4 linked regions of the Homo sapiens genome follow. The protein of the gene in region 3 interacts with the protein of the main gene of each other region in a pairwise test. Each region holds a gene or a part of one and is shown on either strand. Other genes may lie near its edges.

Region 1 (6,682 bases), on a different chromosome or scaffold from region 3:
AGCCGGACGGGGTCCCCAGAGGCAGGCTGGCTGGGGCAGGAGGGGCCACTTGGTGCCAGGCCCAATGTCATCTTTCTCATCTCACAGGCCCCATGAGTTGAGTGCTCACCAGCCCATCCCCTGCATTTCTGGGAAGTTAAGTGAGTTGAAGCTGAAATTGGCTCAGGGCCCTGAGACCACAACTCCCACAAGAACAGAGAAGGCAGCATGGGGACAAGCTGTCCTGAAGTGCCGAGAGGTCCCGAGCTGCCCATGCCTGAGGCGTTGGGGAGGACACTGCCCTGCACAGGACGCACACAAGACCCTCTCCCCACCTGCCCTCACAGGCAGAGCCGCCCCAGGTGATCTCTGAAGGTCAGCCAAGCTCCTCTCCTGGGGCTGACCCACCAGGGCCAAACCCAAGCACTGCCCAACCCCAGGGAGGGGCCTTGTCCACAGCAGTGGAAACGGGTCAAACATGGGGGACAGGGGCCCACCAGGAGTAACGGCTGAGGAGAACAAGATGGCAAAAAGAAACATTTAATAATGAGGGGGAAAGGGCAGAAAGGTGCAATCCAGGCAGGCAGGTTGAGGGCAGGACATGCCGCCTTCTAGGGTCTCCAGAGAAGCTGTGTCAACGGAGGACGTGGGCCGGGGAGGGCCCAAGGCTGCAGCACATCTACACGAGGGGTCAGCAGAACTGCGAGAAAGGGGGTGAGGCCTCCAGCCTTGTGGCCACATGAGATCCCCCAGAGTGGAAGGCCGCACAGGCTCACCCAAGGCTGGGCTCTCCACCCACCATGCCCAAGACTCCCAGGAGGCTGGTTGGGCAGGGCCATCCCCAGTTCACACCACAGACCCCACAGAGGCTGAGACACCCCACCTCCAGAGAATGGAGCTGGGAGGGGCAGCCTGAGCCTGCTCACCCACCTTCCAGCGGTTTCCACACTCGTTGCAGACAACAAAGGTGGTCATGGGCTCATCAGAGCTGCGGGTCTGCACCTGTGAACAGGGCTGGGTGAACCCAGGGTCACCTCCATGCTCCGCTGCAGACGGCATCCCCTCAACATGGGCAGTGCGGGCCTCGCAGCCACTGAGCTCCCACAGGTGACCTGATCCGAGGCCGCCTCGTGACTCCAACCTTCCAAAGCTGAGCCTCCGGGGGAGGGAGACAGAGTTTATCGGGGCAGAGGCCCTTGTGTGAGCCTGAAGCAGCTCACATTGGCTGGGGACCAGGAGGGCCCAGACTTGGCTGAGGGCAAGAGGGTCCCAATGGTGGGGGGAACTAGCAGGGGTCCCCAGTGCCCGCGGCTGCCTTCCGGAAGGCCCAAGGGTGAGCCTCCGGCCACAGGCAGAGCCTGTTCTGACCAGTGGCTGGGAGCAGGAGAGAGGCAGGCTCTGCACCGACCCAGGCCCCATGCAGCCTTCGAGGGGAAGGAAAGGCTGTCCTTGCAGCCCCTCACGAGTCCCATCTGCCAGGTGCAGCGGCCGCCTCGACACACTCCCCTCTTTTTTTTTTTTTTAAAGACGGAGTCTCGCTCTGTCGCCCAGGCTGGAGAGCAGTGGCACGATCTGGACTCACTGCAACCTCTGTCTCCCGGGTTCAAGTGATTCTCCTGCCTCAGCCTCCTGAGTAGCTGGGATTACAGGCATGCGCCACCACGCCCAGCTAATTTTTGTATTTTTAGTAGAGACGGGGTTTCACCATGTTGGTCAGGCTGGTCTCGAACTCCTGACCTCATTATCCGCCTGCCTCGGCCTCCCAAAGTGCTGGGATTACAGATGTGAGCCACTGCACCCAGCCGCACTCCCCTCTTAACAGGGTCCCTGCCATCTCATGGGATCCACAGTCTCCCCAGCACACTCAGTGTCCACCTCCATGGCAGGGACTGAGGGTCCTGCAGTCACTGCCAGGCAGCAGGCAGCACGGCCCTCCCACCAACATCAACACCTCGAGGGCCCTCCGTTCAGGCTGGGCTGGGCCAGGCCAGGCCCTCTGACTTGAGTATCCGCAACAAGTGGGTCCCACCACCCAAGACGCCGCCCCGTGGAGCCCAGAGGTCCTGGGTAGAGGGGAGTGGTCCCTGAAGGTGGCCATCATGCCTTAGCCTACTCAGGGACTGAGAGGCTCGGGAAATTCATGCAGCAGAGGCGGGAATAGGCATGGGCTCCAAGGAGGGGCACCAGATGCCCTGAAGACACCGGGCCCGGGGGAGGGTGCCCAGCGGCCGCTCACCTGTGTGTAGGTGCAGTTCTTTTTCCTGCACTTGCCGCAGGTGAACAGGTCTGTCTGCGTGCCGCCAGTGCGGGCCATCTGGTGCTCTCGGATGGCCTCCTTGGTCATGGCCTTACGGATCTCCTTCAGCTCATCACTGGCCATCTCCTGGAGCACGGGGCCAGTGGCTTAGCCCACCGCTCCGAGGGAGCAGCCCTCCAGCCCCTCCAACAGGGGCTCACCTCTGAGGTCATCACAGCGATCTGCTGGGGTGTTATGGCCCCACACAGCACATTCCGCCGCAGGTCAGGGTTCTTGGCATCCTTCAGGTTGGAGATACGACTCCGTACACGGTTCTTATACTTCATGTCTGTGTTTCCAACGTCCCGGAAGATGCGTGCAAGTGTTTTAAGGACCCACCTGAGGACAACGTCGCTGCCCTCCACCTACCACCTGCCCCGCTGGGGGCCATGTTGGGGTGGGGGCTGGAAAGGTTCTGCCCAGCCACACAGGGGTCGGTCTGCCCACCCACACCTGGTGGAGAGGTGAAGGGCTGCAGGGCCAAGCCTGCCCCAGGCCCATTCCTGACTGAGACCCAGCTTCAGGCTACAGCCCCAGGGGACCTAGGCCCCACAAGCAGACAGAATCAGCCCTTCAGCTGGTCCGGGGGCCCTCCTGAGGTGAGACAGCCTGACCACCCAGGCAGGTGACCACCCAGGCAGGTGACCCCTGGACAGCTGGGCAGTGGCATCCAGCAGCCACCAGAGGGCACCAGGCCAGGCAGCCTCCTGACTCCACCAGAAACCCAGGCCCACAGCCCCTACCCAAAGGATATATTCCTCGATCTGAGCCGACAGGCGCTCGCAGTCCGCACCGATGGCCACGTGGTCATCTGCAAGAGGGAGCCCTGACTAGCTTCCCCCACTGGTTTCTCCACCTGCCACCCCTTCTGCCTGCAAAACACCCTGGCAGCTTAGAGGGCACATCCGGGTCCCTGCAAGAGGCCCACGATCCAGGCACAGGCCCCTAGCCCCTGCCAGGGCCACAGCAATGGGCTGGGGGAGGACAGTCACCCCGCTGGAAGCAGGCCTCTGCGGGCAGGCAGGGGCCCGGGCCACCCTGTGAACCACAGCGGGTGTCAGGAGCCAGGGCCGGCCGCACTCACGGTCCGTCTGCAGGGCAGCGGTCAGCATCTCGCGGCACTTGTTGCGCACGGCATCACAGGTGACAGGCACCGGAGGAAATGTGGTGATCCTCGGAGTCGACGGTGCCCTGGGCAGCTCCGGCCTCTTGCGGCTGCAGAGAGCCAGGGCCAGCTGGGTTCAGACTCAAGGCTGCAGGCACCCCAGCGAGACACTGGTCCTAGAAGCAGCAGGTGCCACAGCATAATCCCCCACCAACCCCTGCTTGTTCTACTCTGCCAGAGTCCAACAGTGGCCTGTGGCCCTGCCTATCTTGAGTCCAGCCCAGATGTCCATGGGGTGTGCCCAGCAGCCAGGAGGGAGAGGGCCATGAGGTCCCCAGTGGGTCAGGGTGTACTCTCCAGGTGGGAACAGGATCCCAGACCCAGCAGTCAGCATCTGGGCAGCATTACCAGTCGATCAGAATGAACCTGGCAGTTCCTGCCACCTCTGGGGTGCCCACCCACTGGGCCGCAACACAAATACTCTGCTGAGGGCAGCTGCAGCTGCTGCCTGGTCAGGGAGAGGGAGAGACCCACAGCTGTCTGGGGGGAGACAAGGCGGGGCCGCCCAAGGCCAGGTTCTGCTGTCACAGACGACACCCCTGGGCACGTACAGAATGGGAGAAGGATGCCCCTCAGGGCTGGACCCCAACATGGGGCTGCCCAACGACCAGGCTGCATCCACCTAGCCCTCCCCTCATCCCCTCTGTGGAAGTTGGCAGAAGCAGGCAGCTTCCTGGAGGAAAATCAACTTGCAAAGGTGTCCCTGAGCTCCTGGTGGCCCAGTCACCACAACCCAGTGTGGTCAAGGGCAAAGCCATCTCTCGGCTATAGCCTGCCACAATAAGCACCCCCAGCTCCCAGCTGCAGGCCACAGAGCCCTTATCACCCCCTGGCAGCAGTGACCACACGTGCACATGCAGGGCAGGAGGGGAGTTGGCCCCCGCCTTTGGTTCTGGGCAGAATTTTGCAGGAAGGAGGGACCGTCGTTGAGTGAGGCTGAGGGGGAAGCCAGAGTGGGCCAGCAAGAACCAGACCCAGCAGGGGGCCTTGGGGGAAGAGGCCAGGGGGCTCCCACAGGCCCACTCAGGGTATACAGCAGCTCTTGGCAGAGGAAGAGGCCAGGATGGCTGGCTGACAGCCAGGTGGACACAGACCCACATCTCAAGTGGTCAGTGCAGGCGGGACACACCACAAGGCTGGTGTCCAGCATGAGGCTGACCGACTCTGTGTGCAGCCTCAAAGCAGTGCCTAGGCACATGGAGACTGGCACCCTTTCTCTGGCAAGGAAACAGGCTGGGAAGCAGAAGTGTGTGCACCTGCCTTCCAGGTGTGCTACCTGGGATCCGGGGCCTCTGAGGCATCCCTCGAGGACGTGGGCAGAGGCATGCCCCTCCCCCGCTCCCTGGCTTTGGCATCGGAAGCATCTGCAGGAAAGATCGGGGATGGGCTGATCAAGGGGAGGCAGAGGAGGGAGGGGCACAGACCACCACCAAGGTACAGCCTCAGCCCGACCACCAACACGGCCCCAGCCCCAGCCCCCGCCCCCAGCCCCTCACCCAGCCAGGGGAGCCAGGGGCCAGGAGGCTGCCCAGCCTCTGTGAACAGGTCCTCACCCTCCCCAGCAACCTGTCCATCTCTGCAGTCCTGAGGCTGCCTCCCCAGAACCCTTTCCCGTACAAGCACCCACTCACAAAGGCCACCTCTGGGGCCTCTCTGGGGCCCACCCTCCTGCCTGTCCTGGCCAGAGAGACCAAGCATGTCCCCAAGAAGGCTCTTCCTGAAAGCCCAGAGCCAGGCCCAAGGGCTGGGGACCAGGACATGCTTGTGCCATGCACAGCCTGAGGGCCACACAGGGCTGGAGAGAGACTGTTTCACAAGGGTGTGGACAGAGCTAGGAGGGTTGCCTCCATCCCAGACAGCAGCATCTTTGCAACCCCAGTCACCCCACTGTCTCCAGGAAGAGGCAGCCTTCAGTCCAGCCCAGCCCAGCCCAGCCCTTCCCTTCCCTGGCAGGGGGCTGCCCCTCTGTTCCCTCTGAGTAGCTGAGGTGGCCCTGCCTTCTCCCTCCCGCTTCCCCTCTCCCGGCACTTCCCAGCCTCCTGGCCATGACCTTCCCCTCTGTGTGACCTCCCAACTCACCCCAGTCTCTCAGTGCTGTCAGTTCAAGTCCTGGCCTCAACTCTCTTCTCTCCTTGTTCTACCTGGAACCCTGCCCCCAGCACACACCCTGGCCTCCTAGGCCACACCTCCCAGCCAATGCTGACAGGCACCCACTGATCCACTGCCAGCCCCAAGCTGGGCGCTTCATGGTCTGGGTTTGCCACTGCCCCACTCCCAAGCGACCTGGCTCAGGGTGGACACTGCCAGCACTCTACACTGTGCTGACCAGCAAGAGGCAGCACTTCTGGGACCCCTGCCCCAGCACTCAGTGGGCACCGCCTGAGCCGCACCCAGGAGCTTCTTCCAGGACTTGATGAGAGACTTGGCCAGTGCAATGACCTCCTCATCCGAGCTCTGCTTCCGAAGGGCGTTGACAGACATCCCGACTCGGGTGGACTACGAGGCAAGTGGTCTGGGTTGGGGGAGGCAGGGGCCCACCCTAGGGGTCAGATTCTCCTGGCAGAGCCTTGGTGGCCCCCACAGGACAGGAGCCCGGGACCTCCCAGGGAGGTAGAGGCCTCTCCCAATGGCGACTGTCCCATTTGGAACCCAGGAGCCTCAGCCACGGAGGACAAGATGGGTTATCCTCAGACTCCCCTCCCTGTCCCACTGAGCCCAGAGAAAGGCAGAGACCCTCTCCTCAGGAACAGGCATTTGTGCCAACTAAGGCCTGGTGGGGAGGGTGGGGAAGCCCTGCCAGGTGCCCTCAGAACTGCCATCCCCTGGGCTGCACCCAGGAGCTGTCCTGGACCTGGGGCAGGCAGGGACCTACCTGGAGCAGGTGCAGCGTGATAGGCATGGCCTTCAGCTCCCGCAGCAAATCCATGGCTCCCTCCTGGAAGGAGAAGGAGGACCTTCATAAAGGACTTTAGATCTCAACAGACAATATCACCTCCTTCTGCCTACTGGAGGAGAACACAAGGCAGTGACAATTTGGAGATTCAACCTGGGGTCAAAAAGAAACCAAAATTCCTCTACCTGGAGACACCCAGGGCTCTGCCCACATGTTCCTGCACCACAGCAGGGAACCCTTACTGCTCAGTCAAGAAGGGGAGGGGTTCTGCAGCCTCAAGCATTCCAAGTTGTAACCCACATCCGTGGCAATGACCTCACTGACTTCGTTGTAACCACCTCAGGTCACT
Region 2 (3,905 bases), on a different chromosome or scaffold from region 3:
TGGTGTCCTGAGGCCTCCAAGGACGGTCCCCACCCCTCTACGTTTCCCCAATAAAGCCTTTTAAAAACCTGCCTGCCTTCTCTGCTCACTGCCCGATGCCTTGCAGCCCCCTAGCTCTAAGGTGGCCCAGCAGGCTGGACAGCCCGGGAACTCACTGGGTCTGGCTCTCGGCTGTCCACACCCTCTTCCCCCCCGAATCTCCAGACCCGCAGGCCTTGGGTTCAAGTTCAGTGTCACAGAACCTGAGCTGGATTTTGTCCTCAGGGGTCACACCTGGCCTTGAGCCAGCCCCTCGGTTGAGGCTCGTGGGCTCACCAGCTGGCTCTCGGGGGGCCACACAGCGCCCTCCCTGTGTGTTCCCCGGCTAATGTCTAAAGTGCTCATGCCAGGTCCCAGCTGGACTCCCCTCGGTAGGGCCCCACCTTTTGTTACCTGAAAATGTCCTTAAAGCCTCCTCCATGTAAGAAACTGGCAGGCCTGGAGCCCCTCCCCCGTGGGGACCACCCTCCTTCCAGCAAAATGCCGGCCAAGCTCAAGGAGAAACAGCGTTTATTGTGGAGGGGAGCTGGGCGGGGCTCAGCCCTCGGAGAACTGGCAGTACAGCCGCCCCAGCCTCGGCTCCACCCATAGCCGGAACGGGATCTCCAGGATGGCAGAGAAGCCTTCAGCCAGCGTTGGGGCCTCGAACTGCTTCCTGGCAGTGGTGGGAACAGTGAGGGACAGCCTGGATCATGTGGCCCAGCCAGTGCCCCTGCCCCCTGCTATCCCCAACAGTACCTGTAGCCATACATGACCATGTCTGACACGGGGATATGAGAGGAGTCCGTCATCTCTCGAAACTGTGGGGAACATCAGAGGGGCGGCAGGCCCAGGGGTCAGGGGAGGAGGGGGGTCAGGGGGTGCAGCCCGGGGGGTGTCCGGGCTGAGCGGGCTCACCCGGTTGTTGTGGCGCGCCTGCTCCAGAGTGGCGGTGAAGAGGAAGCAGCGGCAGGGGACGCCCGCGGCTCGGGCACACTGGACGTACCTGTGGGGGAAGGAGCTGGATGTGCAGGCCCCGCCCACCCCGCCGCAGGCCACCTACGGCCCCGCGGTCACGCTACCTGGCGCGGCTCGCGGCGTCTGGGTTTGTGTTGTCGATGGCGACCCGTTTCCCTTGCTTCAGGGCTGTCTCACACGTGGTCACACAGCGCTGCCAGGAGCCTAGCGTGTCCTGGGGACACGAGAGGTCACAAACAGATCGGCAGACCCAGGGGGAGAGAAGACCCCGAGCGGGGACGGGGAGGCAATGATGGAGGAAAGCCGCCCCAAACCAGTTGAGAGGTGGAGATGGGAACTTTATAATAGATTTGGGGCGGCAAAAGCCTGGTCATACCCTGTTCACGTGGACATATCCGGCCGACACGAGGTGCTTCTTGAGAAAGGTGGACTTCCCGGCTGTGTGGGGGGCAGTGTCGGTGGGTGGCCTAGGACCCAGGCGGGGCTCAGGGCACGCGCACAGGAACAGGACACTTACCCCCAGGGAATCCCACTGCGACAACCACCTCCGGGCTGGCGCTCAGGAGGGCCCTGGACTCGGGGAGGCAGAGAGGCCCTGAGCGGGAGACAGTCCTCTGCGAGGGGCGGGGGACACGCGTGAGATGCCGTCCCCATCCCCGGGAGCCCTCCCATCCCCACCCCCACCCCCGCCCCAGGGCCTCACCGGATCAAAGGCTGGGAGCTCGAAGCCGGCTGCTGGCCACTTGAGAAAGAACTCCTCAGGCGTGGCGAAGGGCAGGCCAAGGTTGAGGGCAAACTAGGGGTTGAGGACGAACATCAGACACAGGCCAGGGTCGGGCTCGGGCGCGGGGCAGGGGGCAGGGGCCTCACCAGGCGATCGGCGCAGGAGAAGTCTTTCTTCTTCCGCCCCGGGGCCCAGTTGGCCGGGCGTCCGGCTGCGTCTGGAACACACGGGACACCCCGTTCCCACCAGCTCGGAGGGAGGCGTCCCAGCCCACCCTCAGCAGCCTCCAGGCCCTTACCTCCCACAAAGATGCTGTCCCCGATGGATATGGGCGTGCCGTCGTTGGCCTACGGGAGACGGTAGTGAGGAGGCCCTTCCCACAAATGTCCCCCCGCAGCGGTAGCGGGTCCCTGGGGCTGCTTCGCCTGGTCTGTGCCCCACATCAGGAATCATCCCCCGACCTTTCATGTCCTCACTCTCCAGCCACTTTGCACCGTGCTCCTGGCCCCCTCCCCCCTCCGTGGTCTCTCCACACAGCCCCCTCCCTCCAGGTCTCCCGACTTCACCTCCTCCCGTTCCCCACGCGGCCACCGGAGGGCACCCACCCTGCTACAGCTCCAGCCTCCGGCGTGCCGGCGCCTCCCAGGTTCCCCCTCCCTCAGGGCAAAAGCGGGGCCCTCCCTGTGGCCCTGCCCTCTCCCCTCCCTCGCTTAGAGCCAGCCGCATGGGCCTCGCTGTCCCTAACTAGCCCAGGCTAGGGACTGCCTCAGGGCCTTTGCACTTGCTGTCACTCCCACAAGGGGGGGGACCGCTTTCCCCAGGTGTCCACCTGGCTCCCTCCTTTCCCTGCCTTAGGCCTTTTCCTCTGATGTCACCTCCTCAGAGGCCATCCCTGCCCACCACGGGTGATGCCTGCTTTCTCCAGCTCCCTCCCTCCTGCTGTTTTACACGCCAGTCTGCCCATCCGCCTAGAGTCACCGCCCTCGCCGTGAGGGCCCTGCTGGAGCAGGCCGTCCCGCTCACTGATACCTTCAGCTCAAGAATGCGCTAAACTTCAGAACAAATGCACACACAAACGAATGAACGAAGGAATGAACAGCTTCCCTACTACTCTGATGTAGAAAGTCTGAAAGCACTGGTCTCGTAAACCAACATCTAAGATGTCACAGCAAAAAACAGAAGGAGGGAGCGAGAGAGGACAGAGGAGTAAGGAGGCCCCAACCGGAGGCCGGGGAGCCCAGGAGTGAGGGGCTGGAGTGAGGAAAAGGAGGGGGGCCGGGCAGGCTGCAAGACTCACCTGCTCCTGCAGATGGTCCCACATGCCCGTCACCGGCTTCCGGTACAAGCCTGCGTGCGTGGCCACCAGCACCTGTGGATGGGAGGGGGCCACCAGCTTTAGCTCCCCCTCAAGCACCTACTGGATGCCACCCCAGCCCAGAATTTGTAGCTGATGATGGGTTCCTATCAGCATCACACTGCCTGAGGCCTCCGCCCCGCTTACCCTGGAGTCTAAAGCCCTCGCTCTGGATCTCTGTGCCCCCACATAGCTCCCAGCCTCCCTTCCAGCCATACCTGGAAGGGGACCCCCAGCTTCTCCACCACAGCCTCCACCTTGGCCTTGAACTCCTCGGCTGGCAGCTTCCCGCGCCCGATGCTCATCTGGTTGGTGAAGATCACCAGCTGGGGAGCAAAGGGTGTCACCAGACGCTCTGCTCACCAGGGCCTTGGTCTGACTGCGGTCGGACCGCCACGTGCACGTGCCCATGCAGACAGGCGGCTGCACATACCTTGTAGCCCTCGGCTTCCAGCTCTCGGAGCTTACGGGGAATCTCTGGGTACAAGATCCTACGGCAGGTATGAAGCGGCAGGGGTGACCCGGGGCCAGAGGTGGACTCCAGGCCTCACTCACTCCCTTGTTTTGCCTCTTATCACCTCCAGTCACTGGGGCCAGTGGGAAAGACCTTCCCAGAGCGTGTGGTGATGAGCGTCCCGTCCAGATCAAAGCCAGCCACCTGGTGTCACCAAGGAAAGACAAACAGCAGCACTGTGATACCTCTGACCCTCCTCACTCACAGGCTGACTCACACCAACCCTGCCAGGCAGGGTGTTATCACTGCCATCTCACAGATGGGGAAACCGAGTCACAGAGCACCTCCATCTCAAGCATCCGTGATGCCTCTGAGTG
Region 3 (7,657 bases):
TTGAACCCAGGAGGCGGAGGTTGCAGTGAGCTGAGATCACGCCACTGCACTCCAGCCTGGGTGACACAGCAAGACTCCTTTCAAAAAAAAAAAAAAAAGTCAAAAACCTTGAAGCATGAAAACCTTCATGTCTTTCGTGAAGAATCTGGTCTAAAGATATTTTTTATTGGAATGTGGTGTTGGAAAGGAAGAAAAGTCAGTGAAGGAAATTGTAAGGTAACAGTTCTGACTGAAAACCTAAATCCTTCGTCATCACTACAGGGATACAAACCCCAACACTACTCTGCTGCTGAATGGACTCAGTGGCACGATCATGTTTCACTGCAACCTCCGCCTCCTGGCTTCAAGCGATTCTCCTGTCTCAGCCTCCCAAATAGCTGGGACTACAGGCACATGCCACCATGCCTGGCTAGTTTTTGTAGATCTATATTTTTGTAGAGACAGGGTTTTGCCATGCTGGCCAGGCTGGTCTCGAACTCCTGACCTCAAGTGATCCACCCGCCTTGGACTCCCAAAGTGCTGGGATTACAGGCATGAGCCACCATGCCTGGCCATGGACTCAGTCATTTTAATGAGCAGATTTTACTTCTCAAGTTTAATGACCAAGAGATGAAAACTGCTGAGAAATATATAAAATATTGAAACTAACGTGGTCATTAAACTTGAGAAGGGCAGCACGGTAGACTGGAAAAGGGCAAAACAAATGATCCTGAGGCACCCACACATATACAGGAAGTCCCCAAATGGGCCGTGATACATTTTCAGTCCTCTGGGAATCTGAAAAGAGCAAAAACTGGGGACCTACAGAGAAATGCTGTGGAGAGAGTAGGAAGGACTTCAGGGAGCTGCCATTCTGTCAGATCAAATTAAAAGCATGTTCAAAGACAGAATCCTCTTGAGCCCCTTGCTCTCCTCCCTACCATCTACTCTAGAAAGCTGGTGGCCAACAGAGCAGGCAGCTGTGGTGCCTGCTCCAGGCACCAAGACAACTGAAGATGCTGCTGTGAACACAGAAGAGGTAACAGCCATGCTGCTTGATTCAGGCTCCCCACTGCTTGCCAGGGTTACATCCTAGAAGATCCTAGAAGATCTGGACCACAAAAAAGCCACCCGCCCACATCTGGCTCTGCATAGGGGTACATCTCATTGTCATTGCAGCCTTCCTGGTCAAAGCTGTCTTCTAGGGAAGTGGGGGACAGGGATTATCACCAGCTGGATAATGAGGAAGAAGGGGCAAGCTCTGTTGCTTCAGAGTTGCACGTTTCCTCCTAATACCCACTAGTGTTTTGACAAACTGTGCCTTATGGGACACCAGGTCAACACTGCATGACTGCCACCCAACCAGAAATGCTGTCGTGGTGAAAAGGGGAAGCCCCAGCACTCTCAGTGGGGTAGATAACAATAGACTATGACAAGGAGACGCATTTGCAAAATTTTCCTTTGAAAACGTAATGTAATAATTTATAACTACACTAGTGATTTTTTTTCCTATTCTCCTGGTTTGCAAATGGCTGGACAAATCCACAGGAAAGAAATTATTTTAATTATCACCTGATGATTTTATTTCCTGCTTTGAACCACTTAGTCCCTTCCAGGTCTCCTTGCACTCAATAGTGTTAGAATGCTCTACTTGTGTTCACTTCAGAAAATGTCCCCTAAACTCTTTTTTTTTAAGAGATGGGATCTCACTTTGTCACCCAGGCTCCAGTGAGGTGGCACAGTCATAGCTCACTATGGCCTCGAACTCCTGGGCTCAAGTGATCCTCCTGCCTCAGCCTCCCAAGTAGCTGGGACTACAGGTGGGTGCCACCACCCCTAGCTCATTGAAAAAGTTTAGAAGTTTGAACTTGTACAGATAGCTGAGTTTCTTGGGTGTGACCTATTTAAACCAGGTCATTTTTAAATGCTCTTTCAAAGTCTGATTTTATTAATAAATGAAATCATCCCATCATAAGGGAAACAATGAGAAATCTATGAAGGGAAAACATATCCATTAATATGAGGCACCCTGAAAATTAAACTGTTTGGTGGAAGGAACAACCATCACTTTCAATTTCTTTTTAAAGCAACTTCCAGAGAATAAGCTATGTTAAGTAAAATCAAAACAGGAAAAGCCACATCTAGGTGGATTTCAAACGAAATGATACCTCTCTGAAAAAAAAGCAAAAACAAAACCTTAATGCCTGGTGAAGTTTGAGGGGGGTCTCATAATCACAGAGCCATCAGGAAGCGGCTAGAAACAATGAAGCAGGGTTTCAAAATGACTGGTACAGGATGTACCCATAGAAAGAAATGTTGCGCGCACTGGTGGAGCTGCCAAAGTTACTACTGCAAAGTACCCTGAACTTTTAAAGCGTGGCTTGGGGTCACTCTGACCACACTCTTTCCAATCTGGTCGCCTTGCAAACACGCTAGGATAATTGGCGGGAGGGGGGAGGGGAGAGATGCGCGGACCAGTGAGCTGGCGGGGGTTGGGGGAGAAGCCGGCGGAGCTCTCGGGTCGCTAGCAACATTAAGGTTTCGCTTTCGTCCAAGGGCGGCGGGGGTGGGGGGGTAAGGGGGGCAACGAGATGGCAATGAACTTCCTCCCCCGAGAGACCCTGGCCTCGCGTCCGTGGGCGGCCAGATGCCTTCCCCTCCGCGGCCAGGCGGGGCAGGGGCGTGCTGCGGGAGGGGGCGGCCGCGACGCCCCGAGAGGAGCCAGCAGGGTGGCCAGGACGAAGCCCCAGGAAGCGCCTTACCTGTGCCGCGGCGCGCTCAGAGCCCGGGGCCGGGCCGGGACGCGCAGGTGCTTGGGGGCATCCTGGGGACGGCCTGGGCGGGCGGGGAGTCCATCGCACCCGGCTGGCTGCGCTCTTCCCGCCGCGGGGGGACGGGGAGGGGGCTCCCCTCGGCTCGGCGCCCGCCTCTTCTCCACCCAGCTGAGGACACAGCAGGTCCCGCGGCGGCGGCAGCAACAGGCACCGGCGGACGGTGGCGGCACCAGGAGCAGCAGCCGAAGAGGAGGAGGAGGAGGAGGAGGAAGAAGAGGAGGAGAAGGAGGAGGTGTCTGCGCGCGGCTCTGGTTTCCTCCTCCCAGCCTGGGCGAGCGCGCTGGAGGCGAGGGGAAGACAGGAGCCGGGATCTCCCCACTCGGTCCCCGGGGAGCTGGGAGGGGGACTCGGTGTCCTCCTCCTCCCCACTGCGCCGTGTGACTGTGCCTGGGCAGCACGGCCCGGACGGGCGAGTCACACGCGAGCAACAGCTGCTGCACTGCGGGTCCGCCGCGGCCTCCCTCCCCTCCTTGCCACCCCCCGCCCCCAAGCCCGCGGGCCATCCTCAGCCAGTGTCTGTGGGGGGAATAGGGGGGAAGTACTCGGGCCGCCGCCCCATCCAGACCCCTGCGCAGGATCTGGGCACAGCGTTTCCCTGGGGAGCCGGGGGCGCGGGGCCCCGCGCGTGATGCAGGCCCTCGTGGCGGGATGTACAGTCGCACACCCTGTCCTTGGCGGCCTATTTATAGCAGGTGGCACTGCCCGCCGCTTGCTCGGCCTGAGTGGCTCTCAGCAGGTGGCACTGCCTGCCCGCTCTCCGCGCTCCCGAAGGCGCCTCGCCTCATCTGCACCCTCCTCTTCTCCCTCCGAAACAGACGTGGTGGAAACTGCACACAACATGGGGGGCGGGGGCCGGGGGCGACCAAGCCACCTTGCTCTCCCCCGCCTTACCCCTTCTCCCCGTCCTTGGAGGATGGCAAGAGGTGAACTGAGGCACGGATGCCCTATGGGGCGCTGGCATGCGAGGCAGGAAAATCAGGGACTCTGGGAAACAACGAAGGCGAAGTGCCCTCCCGGGATTAAACACCAGGAAACTCCATTTCTAACCAATTGCGGGAGTGACGCAGAGCCTGGATTAGGCGCTTTTTCCTGCCCCGCGAGCCCGGCACACGCGCAGGAACACACACCACACGCACACGCACACCCCAGTGTGCATGCCCCGATCAGGTCTGGGGACATTCCCAGCGGTGATGTAGAGTGCAAGGAAAGACGCGGAGATGTGAAAAGCGGGACAGAGCTCGCTCCCTAAGACTAGGGGATGGCAGTGTGCAAAAAACAGGCGAAGCTCCCAGATCCCTATCCCACCAGGCACAGAGGCGCAACGTCACTCGCAGGGTGGGGAGAGGGATCTGAGAAAAGTAAGAAGCATCACATCCTCTCCAGAGAAGAGTCCGCAGGGAGGGGAGAGCCGGGTGCTCGGAGGAGGCAGTTCCAGACCCCCAGGTGGCATCTTTCTGGATTTTTTTACTTAATGTAGCTGGGGGTGGACTTTAGGGAAGTGGCTGAGCGTTTGAGCTGTACGGTTGGACTTGAATCCAAATCCCAGCAGGTGTGGTTTAGGCAAGGTGCTGGACCTCTGGTCTTCATTGTCTTACCTGCTAAATGGGACCAATACACACCTTACAGGATCTTTGTGAGGACAAAGCAGGAAAGTGTAAGTAAAGTGGCCAGTGCAGTGACACAGACGTACATGGTCCTCAACTAAAAGCAGCAGCTATTATCAATATTACTGTGGCCCAGGAGGCAAATAGAGGGCCAGGTTTCCTCATCGTACCAAGAGCAGTGTCTTCCTTGAAGCCCACTGAGCTTCTTGTAGGCTTTTAGATTAGGGCTGTCTTATGGCATTCCCTGATTTCCCTGGATGCTTACATCCAGGGGAGGTATTTTTAAGTGGACCCAAGAGTTTTATTCACAGCTTGACTTAAAACTCTCACAATAGTGGTAGCTATTCTTTACGGAGGAGTTAGTCGATTTGGGGTATTGTGCTAGATACTGTCCTTATATATTGTTGCTAATTTGCTCAAAAACTCTGCAGGGCAAAGATTGTTAAATCCATTTGACTAAGGAGAAAAGTAAGAGGTTAGTGCCTACAGGGTTAGTGGGTGCTGGAATCTCCAAGATCCAAAGCCCTTTATAATATACTTGCTCTCTGGCCACTGTGTAGCCCTCAGCTCATTCTTTGTCATTGAGTAGTTATTTGTGTGCATAGCCTCAACTCTTTTTTAAGAAATATACAGTCATAAATACTGTAATGAGTAGAATGTTAACTGGGTTATGGAAATTATTCTTTAGGTTACAAGACCAGGTAAACCAGTTAAACCATATTGTTATCACTTGGGTCATATCCCAAATTATTTCATGTTTTTACCTTCAACTCTGTTGTAGAACTCTCTCTCCCTGTCTGCAGTGACCTGCTGCACACATTTACCTCCAGAGTGCTAGGAGGTCGAGAAAGGTACACTAGCATTCATTTCATTGACACTGTAAACTGCTTTTTGTATGTAACCCACCAGAGGATGGTTGAAACTGTTACCTAACAACCCTGCTTGCCAGGCCCTGCTCCTGGGAAAAGGGGTCAGGCCAAGGGGAACAGAGATAATTTGCTGGGCTCTGCTTACAGAACATCCTGGCTAGAGCCCCCTCCCATCCTGCCACTCCACTACCTTTTCTTTCCCTCACTTGCTCACCTCCTCTACCCTCTCTTCACCCTTACCCCTAGTCCCAGAGTACAGGAAGGCTTAAGTACAGGTAGGCAGCCAGGCGGGGTGCCTAACCAGAATACAGATGTAGGAAGTCGATGGGTGGGGCCCAGATGCAGGCCCAGGCCTCATATCTCTCAAAGCATTGACATCCAGCAAGTTCCAGCTCAGAGATTTATAATTTAGTGGCAAATGACCATTTGCCTTGACCCTTACCTAGGTTAGGGAGAGGTCATGGCCTTGTGAGAAGCAGCAATTTCTGCATCACTTTTCCAGCTCCCAGGACAGCTAGCACCCTAAGAATGATGAGGAGGGATTTTACCATACTTTCAACTTCTGGGAAACAGAACTCCCTCTATAGTATGCAATAAGGATTGTTGAAATTCTTTTTAAAATCTATACAGCATTATCTTAGAAATTAGGGGACAGCTTGCTATCAATCTATTTGGCCTTAGGTTTTCTAGCAGTTGTAGAACAAATAGTAAAGGGGACTTTGAAGCAGATGGTGATACCTGGTATGGCAGGATGAAGACTGTCAAATGTGGTTGGGGAGATCCATACTGGCCCAGTGCAGAGTGCAGAAGTAAGAGCTCACCACTCAGCTCTTACCTGCAGGTGCCATTGCTCTAGGAGGGAAGTAGCTCCTTCCCCTTGATATGTGGCCACGTGACTCCCAGGAGAGCTGGTACACACCATGGTAGAAGCGTGGGCCAATGGGGCCTTGGTGATGGCAACAGAGAGCTCCCTCAAGGCCCAGGAAGGTGTTCTGTTGGTCCCTCTTTAAGTCACCGATAACAAAAGCAAGCAGAGAATAGGGCCAAATGCTCCAATGATTCTGCTTCAGCTTCTGATTCTTCTGACGGAGTATGACCCAGGAACACAAGGAGTGTGGAGCTCTTCACCACCATGGGCATTTAGCTGACATCAGCTATGGACCCATTGGCTCAGCGAGTGAAAACCCTGATGCGAAGGCACCGACCATCATGGCTGCTGCACTTTTCCTGTCTGGACAACTTCCGCACCTCCAGCTCTTCCCAAAATCCTGCCATGGATCATTCTTTTAGGGCTTCTCCCATAGACTCTTTCCTAATTTAGCTATTTGCAGCATAATTAGTTATTCATTGCCAAAAGCCAGGAACATTAATATCAGCTTTAAGATGGCTGCAGAGCTCTAGAAAATTGTGAACCATCGATGCTATTAAATCACATGAAAAGCTCAGAGCCTGAAAGAAAACAGAGGCCACTTTACTTTTAAAAAGTTAAGGGAACCATGGGAACCATATATACATCTAGAATTAAAATCTTTCGTTGATGTAGAAAGAAGACCTTTAACAAAATTAATCATCATTAAATCCATCAGTTAGGTATTTAAATGCTCATATTAGTTAGGAATCCAAACTATTGCTATTATATATTTTTACTTAAATTCAAAATGTGCATAATAAGGTAGTGGGTCCATTTCCAAAAAATGGCATCAATAAAGGCAAAAAATAAGACTATACTGGCTAGAACCCTAGGATAGTAAGGTGGTTCACTGGGTATGCTTGTTCCCATTGATTGATAGTGACTTTCTGGAGCCCTGAGTGGACGAGGCTTGTAAGGCAAGTCCATGCTCAGTGGGAAAGGGTGCAAGATTGAGAAGCAGCACCTGCCTCAAGCATGGGAGGAGGCAGCATTGCAACACCAGCGCCAGGTAATTTGCCAACCCTGTCAATCCAAGGCATAACAGTTAGATCTAAAGAGTTTGTGAAGGCTGGGGTGGTGGCTTATCCTATAATCCCAGCACTTTGGGAGGTTGAGGTGGGCTGATCACTTGAGCCCAGGAGTTGGAGATGAGCCTAGGCAACATGACAAAACCTCTATAAAAAAATACAAAAAAAAAAAACTTAGCTGGGCGTGGTGTTGCACACCTGTAGTTCAAGCTACCCAGGAGGCTGAGGTGGGAGGATGGTTTGAGCCCTGGAGGTTGAGGCTGCAGCAAGCTGTGATGACACCACCACACTCCAATCTGGGTGTTGGAGTGAGAAACTGTCTCTAAATAATAATAATAATAACATAGAGTCTGTTAAGTTATGCCCAAATATCTTGTTTTCTTTCTTTTCTTTCTTTCTTTTTCTCTTTCTCTTTCTCTTTCTTTGTCTTCCT
Region 4 (7,032 bases), on a different chromosome or scaffold from region 3:
ACTGCAAGCTCTGCCTCCCAGGTTCACGCCATTCTCCTGCTGCAGCCTCCCGAGTAGCTGGGAATATAGGTGCCCGCCAGCACACCTGGCTAATTTTTTGTATTTTTAGTAGAGATGGGGTTTTGCCATGTTAGCCAGGATTGTCTCAATCTCCTGACCTCGTGATCCACCTGCCTCGGCCTCCCAAAGTGCTGGGATTATAGGCGTGAGCCACCGTGCCCGGCCTCTGAAGACTGATTTTTTAAAAGTTGTTTTCTTTAAGTTACCCCAAGTAGTACAACATTGTCCTCTTGTATGCTGATTTTAGCGTATTAAAAAAAATACCATATCTTCTGAGAAGCCTCCAGTGGGAAACAAAAATACCACATCTATAACTACTATTTATAATTGACTCTTCTGAATTTTTATTTTGAGAGAAGCTAAACAGATTATTTTCTAGAGTCTTATCAGATTGGATCTATAATTTTCTGTAGCAAATTTTTTCATTTTGCATCTGTTCCAGACAGTAGGCTAAATTTAAAACTGTGGTTGGCAGCCTTTTATGCATAGTATCATAAATAATTTCAACTGTTTCTCAACTGAGAACATAATAAAAATTTTATATTTATGGAGAAAATGGGGTTTTATCTCTTTAGTTGCTTCAATTAAAAGAACTGAAAGGGTAGGGCACGGTGGCTCATGCCCATAATCCCAGCACTTTGAGAGGCCGAGGCGAGTAGATCACCTGAGGTCAAGAATTCAAGACCAGTCTGGCCAACATGGTGAAACCCCGTCTCTACTAAAATACAAAAATTAGCTGGGTGTGGTGGTGTGCGCCTGTAATCCCAGCTACTTGGGAGTCTGAGGCAGGAGAAGGCAGAGGTTGCAGTGAGCTGAGATGGTGCCACTGCACTCCAGCCTGAGTGACAGAGTGAGACTCCGTCTCGTAAAAACAAACAAACAAACAAAAAAACTGAAAGGTATGTAAAGGGAGTGAGGGAGAAAGGCCAGTCAGACCCTTCTAAACATGATCTGTATGTTGAATAATTACAGCATTTTTTCTTCTTTGCTTTGTTGTCATCCTAAAGTCCCGGTCACCCATGGGAGCTACTGCTTTTGTGCCCACAGAAGCAGCTACCCTGAAAGTCCCTCCTACCCCCTCCCATGTCCTCTTACTCCCTCCCAAAGTCTTGCCCCACTGTGAGGAGGGCTTCTCCCTGGCTCCTTGATAAGCCACTGAGAACTTTGTCCCTGCCCCCATTTCCTCTATTTCCCTGCCTTCTCTCCACTGGCAGTCCTTGGAGCCACACTGCAGGAGCGCAGCTGGAGGGAGAGCATTGGGCTGTGGTTGCCTGGTTTACAGCAGGTAGAACCGTGTTCCTCTTCATCTCAGTTAAAACTTACAACTCAGGAGGCTCCTTATAGAAATACTTTGTAAAGGGTTGTTGGGTTCTATCCTATTATACCTTTTGTTGGTTGATCTGGGAATTGAACCATCCTTTATCAAATGGATTAAATAACATTTATTTTCTGACAGTTTGGTCTTGCTCCCTCTCGTTCTTAAAATATCACTGGGGAAAATGTACATAGCCCACAAATAACCTATAACTCATTCTATATGCATAGCCCATAATTAATGTATAACCTAACTAGGTGGACTCTTTAAGAAGCAGCATTTTGGATCAGTGTCAGCTTAATTTGTCTTTCAGCTCCAGTCACTATATATCAAGTGTTTTCTCCCCACCAGGCTGATTTGAACACCAGCTTTTCTGGGGTGGATGAACATGCACCGATAAGCTATGAGGACTTTGTGAACTTTCCTGATATTCACCACTCTAATGAGGAGTATTTCAAGAAAGTAGAAGAGTTGAAGGCTGCCCACATAGAAACTATGGCAAAATTAGAGAAAATGTACCAGGATAAATTACATTTAAAGGAAGTTCAGCCAGTGGTCATCAGAGAAGACTCTCTTAGTGACTCTTCCAGGTAAGCTTGTAACTCAATGTTATTTGTGGAGTATAAAATAAAATGTATCCTTAAAAGGACAGAACAAAGTTACTTCATAATATTTTCTCTTAAATAGCCCTTTGTACTCCCAACGATATACAGAGGTAGGATTTTATTCAAAATGTTTAATGGCTTATCAGCTTACTGGATGACCGTTTGCTTGAGGGTCATTTGGTGGCCATTTGGTCTTTTCTTTCTGACCCACCCATAGAACTGAGGGCATGTATCAAAATACTTAGTCTGTGCCATTTTAACTGGTAAATATAAAAGTTTAATTTTAAAAGCTCTTTATAATATGTGGATTAACATGAGCTCATTAAAGATCTAGTACAAAGAGTTCAGGACTAGGAGACATGAATCTGATTTATGTTTTCAAAATAGTCTGCAATTTCAAGACCCATTTCTGCTGTGAACTCACCTGCTCTGAGACTTACACATCTAGTCAGTCAGCGATGCTTGCATGTCTCCTTTGTGCCAGACTATGCCTGGGCGCTGAGGAGTCAAAAACAAGATGCCCTCAAGGAGCTTAGAGACTAGCTGAGAACCAAAAATTGCATTACAGCATGATGTAACAGAGTGTTACAGAGGAAGAAGCAGTTGGTCATGCCAAGCTTTCAGAGGGATGCAGGCCAGAATTTTCCACTAAAGTGTCACATCTGAGTTCAGTCTTGGAGGAGGAATAAGTATTGGCCTTCTAGGCAGCAGAAACCATGTATGCAAAGGCAAGATGGCATGAGAAATCATATCGTGTGTGAGGAACTTCACAGGACTGGATATGAATGCAGAATGGAGACTGGGGTAGCCAGTGGTGAGGGGTAAGACTGAAAAGATAGGCGCCAGTCTCGAAGGGCTTGTAATCTAGGCTTGACTTCGTAGCAGTGAGGAATTATCAAAAAGTTTCAAGCAGGGGAATGACATGATCAGATCTATGCTTCAGGACAGTGACTCTGGAAAGTGGGGAGAATTTAATAGAGGTTAGACACAAGGACCCTCTGCCATCTCAGGTTCCTTCCCTGTAAAATGAAGGAGTCAAAGTGGATAATTTATGGGCATTGCCCAGCTCTATTCCAAATAAAAGTGATGATTCTTACAAGCCCTGTCCAGCTCCTCGCTTCTGATTATACCCTGATCTTAGAAAATATGTAACTCTTGGCTGGGCACAGTGGCTCATGCCTGTAATCTCAGCACTTTGGGAGGCGGAGGCAGGCAGATCACGAGGTCAGGAGATTGAGACCATCCTGGGTAACTTGGTAAAACCCTGTCTCTACTAAAAATGCAGAAAATTAGCTGAGCATGGTGGCACAAGCCTGTAGTCCCAGCTACTCGGGAGGCTGAGACAGGAGAATTGCTTGAACCTGGGAGGTGGAGGTTGCAGTGAGCCGATATCACACCACTGCACTCCAACCTGGGCAACAGAGTGAGACTCTGTCTCAGAAAAAAAAAGAAAATATGTAACTCTTAATTTTTATATTTGGTCACATACAACTGAAAGTATAACATAGTTATTCTTCTCATTTAGATCTGTATCAGAAAAGAACTCCTATCACCCTGTCTCATTAATGACATCATTTTCAGAGCCTGATTTAGGCCAGTCTTCCTCCTTGTATGTGTCCTCCTCTGAAGAGGAGTTACCCAACCTAGAAAAAGAGTATCCTAGGAAAAACAGAATGATGACCTATGCTAAGGAGCTCATCAACAATATGTGGACAGACTTTTGTGTTGAGGATTATATTCGCTGTAAAGATACTGGCTTCCATGCAGCTGAAAAAAGAAGGAAGAAACGAAAAGAATGGGTGCCCACAATTACAGTACCGGAGCCTTTTCAAATGATGATAAGAGAACAGAAGAAAAAAGAAGAGTCCATGAAATCTAAATCAGATATCGAAATGGTACATAAAGCGCTCAAAAAACAAGAAGAGGATCCAGAGTATAAGAAGAAATTCCGAGCCAATCCAGTTCCTGCATCTGTCTTTCTCCCCCTTTACCATGATTTAGTCAAGCAAAAAGAAGAACGGAGAAGGTCTCTGAAGGAGAAAAGCAAAGAAGCTCTTTTGGCCTCACAAAAGCCATTTAAATTTATAGCAAGGGAGGAACAGAAGCGAGCAGCCCGGGAAAAGCAGCTGAGAGACTTTCTTAAGTATAAAAAGAAAACAAATCGATTTAAAGCCAGACCCATTCCTCGATCTACTTATGGTTCAACTACCAATGACAAGTTAAAAGAAGAAGAGCTCTATCGAAACCTTAGGACACAGCTGAGAGCCCAGGAGCATTTACAGAACTCATCTCCTCTGCCTTGTAGGTCAGCTTGTGGATGCAGGAACCCCAGGTGTCCTGAACAGGCTGTAAAGTTGAAGTGTAAACACAAGGTTAGGTGCCCAACTCCTGATTTTGAGGACCTTCCTGAGAGATACCAGAAACACCTCTCAGAACACAAGTCTCCAAAACTCTTAACAGTGTGTAAACCATTTGATCTTCATGCATCTCCACATGCATCTATTAAAAGAGAAAAAATTTTGGCAGACATCGAAGCAGATGAAGAAAATTTAAAAGAAACACGTTGGCCTTATTTGTCTCCAAGGCGTAAGTCACCAGTAAGATGTGCAGGTGTAAACCCTGTGCCTTGTAACTGCAACCCTCCCGTGCCCACGGTATCTTCCAGAGGACGAGAACAAGCCGTAAGGTAAGTAAGTAGGACGCAGTACTGACTGACTCATGGTTGCCAGATGAGTGTATGCAGCTCTGTGGAGTTTATGTTGGTAAATTTGAAAATACTTAGAAATTATTATTGTATCTATAAGATATTTTACTATATAATATATGATATTTTGTCAGAGGGTATTCTAAGAAATGAATATATTTTTCATTTATAAATTTTGGGGGATTAGAAAATAATAGTCTTAAGATTTCTAGTTTTACCTGGCTGGGCACAGTGGCTTACACCTGTAATCCCAGTGCTTTGGGAGGTCGAGGCAGGTGGATCACAAGGTCAGGAGTTCAAGACCACCCTGGCCGAGATAATGAAACCCCCATCTCTACTAAAAATACAAAAAATTAGCTGGGCGTGGTGGCGGGTGCCTGTAATCCCAGCTACTCAGGAGGCTGAGGCAGGAGAATCGCTTGAATCCAGGAGGCAGAGGTTGCAGTGAGCCGAGATCACGCCATGGCACTCCAGCCTGGGCGACAGAGCGAGACTCCATCTCAAAAAAAATAAATAAATAAATAAATAAATAAATAAATAAATAAATATTTCTAGTTTTACAGGTCAGATCCTTTTCAAAAGGTTACCTTTTTTCAAATTTTGAATTATCAAAATTCAAATTATCCCATGTTAAATCTTTGCTAAACAACATTCTGATTGGCTTAAAGTGGATTAAGCCTTAGTTTGTTACCCTCAGGAGATCACTTGAGGAAAAGAAAATGTTGGAAGAAGAGAGAAATCGGATCCTAACTAAACAGAAGCAAAGAATGAAAGAATTGCAGAAACTCCTGACAACCCGGGCTAAGGCTTATGACTCACATCAAAGTTTAGCTCAAATATCTAAATCCAGAGTAAAATGTCTCAGGTATCATGAAAAAATCTTGAATCTCCAGACCACTGGTTTTCAAACTCTTTTTTTTTTAATCAGTAGATAGTAAAATATGAGCAGATTGAAAATAGCATTAGTGTTTTAGCTTATGGATTTAAATTGTCATCAGTTACTTGTGTTCAGTGCACACACACTCACCTCATGGTGAGAACCAACATATAAACTCACCTTTATGGTGAGAACCATGAAGCTATGTTGATGAATACAGACATTTTCTATTGTGGCCTTAGTTAATGGTTATAATCTTATACCAATATCTGATCTTGTTCTTTATATTATTTTTGATTGCAGTAAACAGATATATCAAAGAGCTTTGTTCTAAGGTTTGGATGAAATCTGATAGCACAAATTAACACGTTAAACATCGGTTATGTGATGTGTTCATTAGCACATATGTTAATGTTTAGTAGTATGTGTTGCATTTTGTTAGTTTCAATATAAAAATATTCACGGAATTCTTAGAACCCCTTCACTAGAATTTTGCAGTACAAAGTTTGAAAACCAGTGTTCCAGATGTTGCACATAAAAATGTTGATGTTTAAGTAGGAAACTATCTCCCTCAAAGCCAGGTAAGTAATGTGATTTATTACTTTTTAATCTGATTTCTAAATATGCATATGTGCTTTTAATTACAATGAGTATTCTTTTATAATTTAGCTTTAATCCATTGATAAAGGGAGCTTAATTTGATGAACGTGAGCATAATGTTTCTTAGAAATAGATTACTTACCCTTAGGAAGTAAACTATTAATAGCTTTTTATTTTTTATTTATTTATTTTTTTGAGACAGAGTCTCGCTCTGTCACCTAGGCTGGATCCCGAGTTCAAGCGATTCTCCTGCCTCAGCTTACAGAGTAGCTGGGATTACAGGTGCTCACCACCACGCCTAGCTAATTTTTGTATTTTTGGTAGAGATGAGGTTTTGCCATGTTGGCCAAGCTGGTCTCAAACTCCTGACCTCAGGTGATCTGCCTACCTTGGCCTCCCAAAGTGCTGGGATTACAGGCGTGAGCCACCGTGCCTGGACAATAGCTTTTTCATAACACCAACTTGTGTATAATTAAGCCTAATTATCATTTAAAAGTATAATTATTTTCCCCAATCCATTAATCTTATTTATCTTGGTAGCAATTATATCTTACATAGAGAAAATAGTGTAGTTTAATTTATTATAGGATCTTGCTCAAACAGTGAGAACACTTACGGTAAATTTATATATTTTGGTTCCTGTTTCTCTTTATGTTGTATTCCCATGCTCTTTACTTCTCCTTTGACTTGCTCCCATTGAATTAACTTTGCCACTAACCTGTAGGAGATCTTATTTAGGGGAAAAAAATAACAGCAAAGGCTGGATGCCATGGCTCACATCTGTAATCCCAACACCTCAGGAGTACAAGGCAGGAAGATTGCTTGAGCCCAGGAGTTTGAGACCAGCCTGGTAAACATAATGAGACCCCCA

Evidence for each region.
Region 1: the proteins of TBC1D1 (region 3) and TCEA2 interact in binary tests that used the Homo sapiens proteins (3 or more experiments, as listed by UniProt).
Region 2: the proteins of TBC1D1 (region 3) and PNKP interact in binary tests that used the Homo sapiens proteins (3 or more experiments, as listed by UniProt).
Region 4: the proteins of TBC1D1 (region 3) and FAM161A interact in binary tests that used the Homo sapiens proteins (3 or more experiments, as listed by UniProt).

Annotation. Positions count from the first base shown.
Region 1 is NC_000020.11:64,066,169-64,072,850, reverse strand, and holds the end of TCEA2 (transcription elongation factor A protein 2), read right to left. Parts: intron 6,605-6,682; exon of another isoform or gene 6,519-6,604; intron 6,446-6,518; exon of another isoform or gene 6,376-6,445; coding exon 6,313-6,375; intron 5,937-6,312; coding exon 5,831-5,936; intron 4,805-5,830; coding exon 4,717-4,804; intron 3,491-4,716; coding exon 3,360-3,490; intron 3,087-3,359; coding exon 3,030-3,086; intron 2,592-3,029; coding exon 2,437-2,591; intron 2,363-2,436; coding exon 2,216-2,362; intron 982-2,215; coding exon 910-981; coding exon of another isoform or gene 826-909; exon of another isoform or gene 680-825; coding exon 671-679; 3' UTR 504-670; downstream 1-503. UniProt on the Homo sapiens protein: Necessary for efficient RNA polymerase II transcription elongation past template-encoded arresting sites.
Region 2 is NC_000019.10:49,860,672-49,864,576, forward strand, and holds the end of PNKP (bifunctional polynucleotide phosphatase/kinase), read right to left. Parts: intron 3,733-3,905; coding exon 3,653-3,732; intron 3,566-3,652; coding exon 3,508-3,565; intron 3,401-3,507; coding exon 3,293-3,400; intron 3,090-3,292; coding exon 3,018-3,089; intron 2,068-3,017; coding exon 2,019-2,067; intron 1,938-2,018; coding exon 1,867-1,937; intron 1,793-1,866; coding exon 1,700-1,792; intron 1,611-1,699; coding exon 1,514-1,610; intron 1,435-1,513; coding exon 1,373-1,434; intron 1,211-1,372; coding exon 1,101-1,210; intron 1,025-1,100; coding exon 937-1,024; intron 840-936; coding exon 778-839; intron 695-777; coding exon 577-694; 3' UTR 533-576; downstream 1-532. UniProt on the Homo sapiens protein: Plays a key role in the repair of DNA damage, functioning as part of both the non-homologous end-joining (NHEJ) and base excision repair (BER) pathways.
Region 3 is NC_000004.12:37,886,433-37,894,089, reverse strand, and holds the start of TBC1D1 (TBC1 domain family member 1), read right to left. Parts: upstream 3,007-7,657; 5' UTR 2,742-3,006; intron 1-2,741. UniProt on the Homo sapiens protein: May act as a GTPase-activating protein for Rab family protein(s). May play a role in the cell cycle and differentiation of various tissues.
Region 4 is NC_000002.12:61,837,055-61,844,086, reverse strand, and holds part of FAM161A (protein FAM161A), read left to right. Parts: intron 1-1,726; coding exon 1,727-1,965; intron 1,966-3,505; coding exon 3,506-4,666; intron 4,667-5,381; coding exon 5,382-5,549; exon of another isoform or gene 5,550-6,142; intron 6,143-7,032. UniProt on the Homo sapiens protein: Involved in ciliogenesis.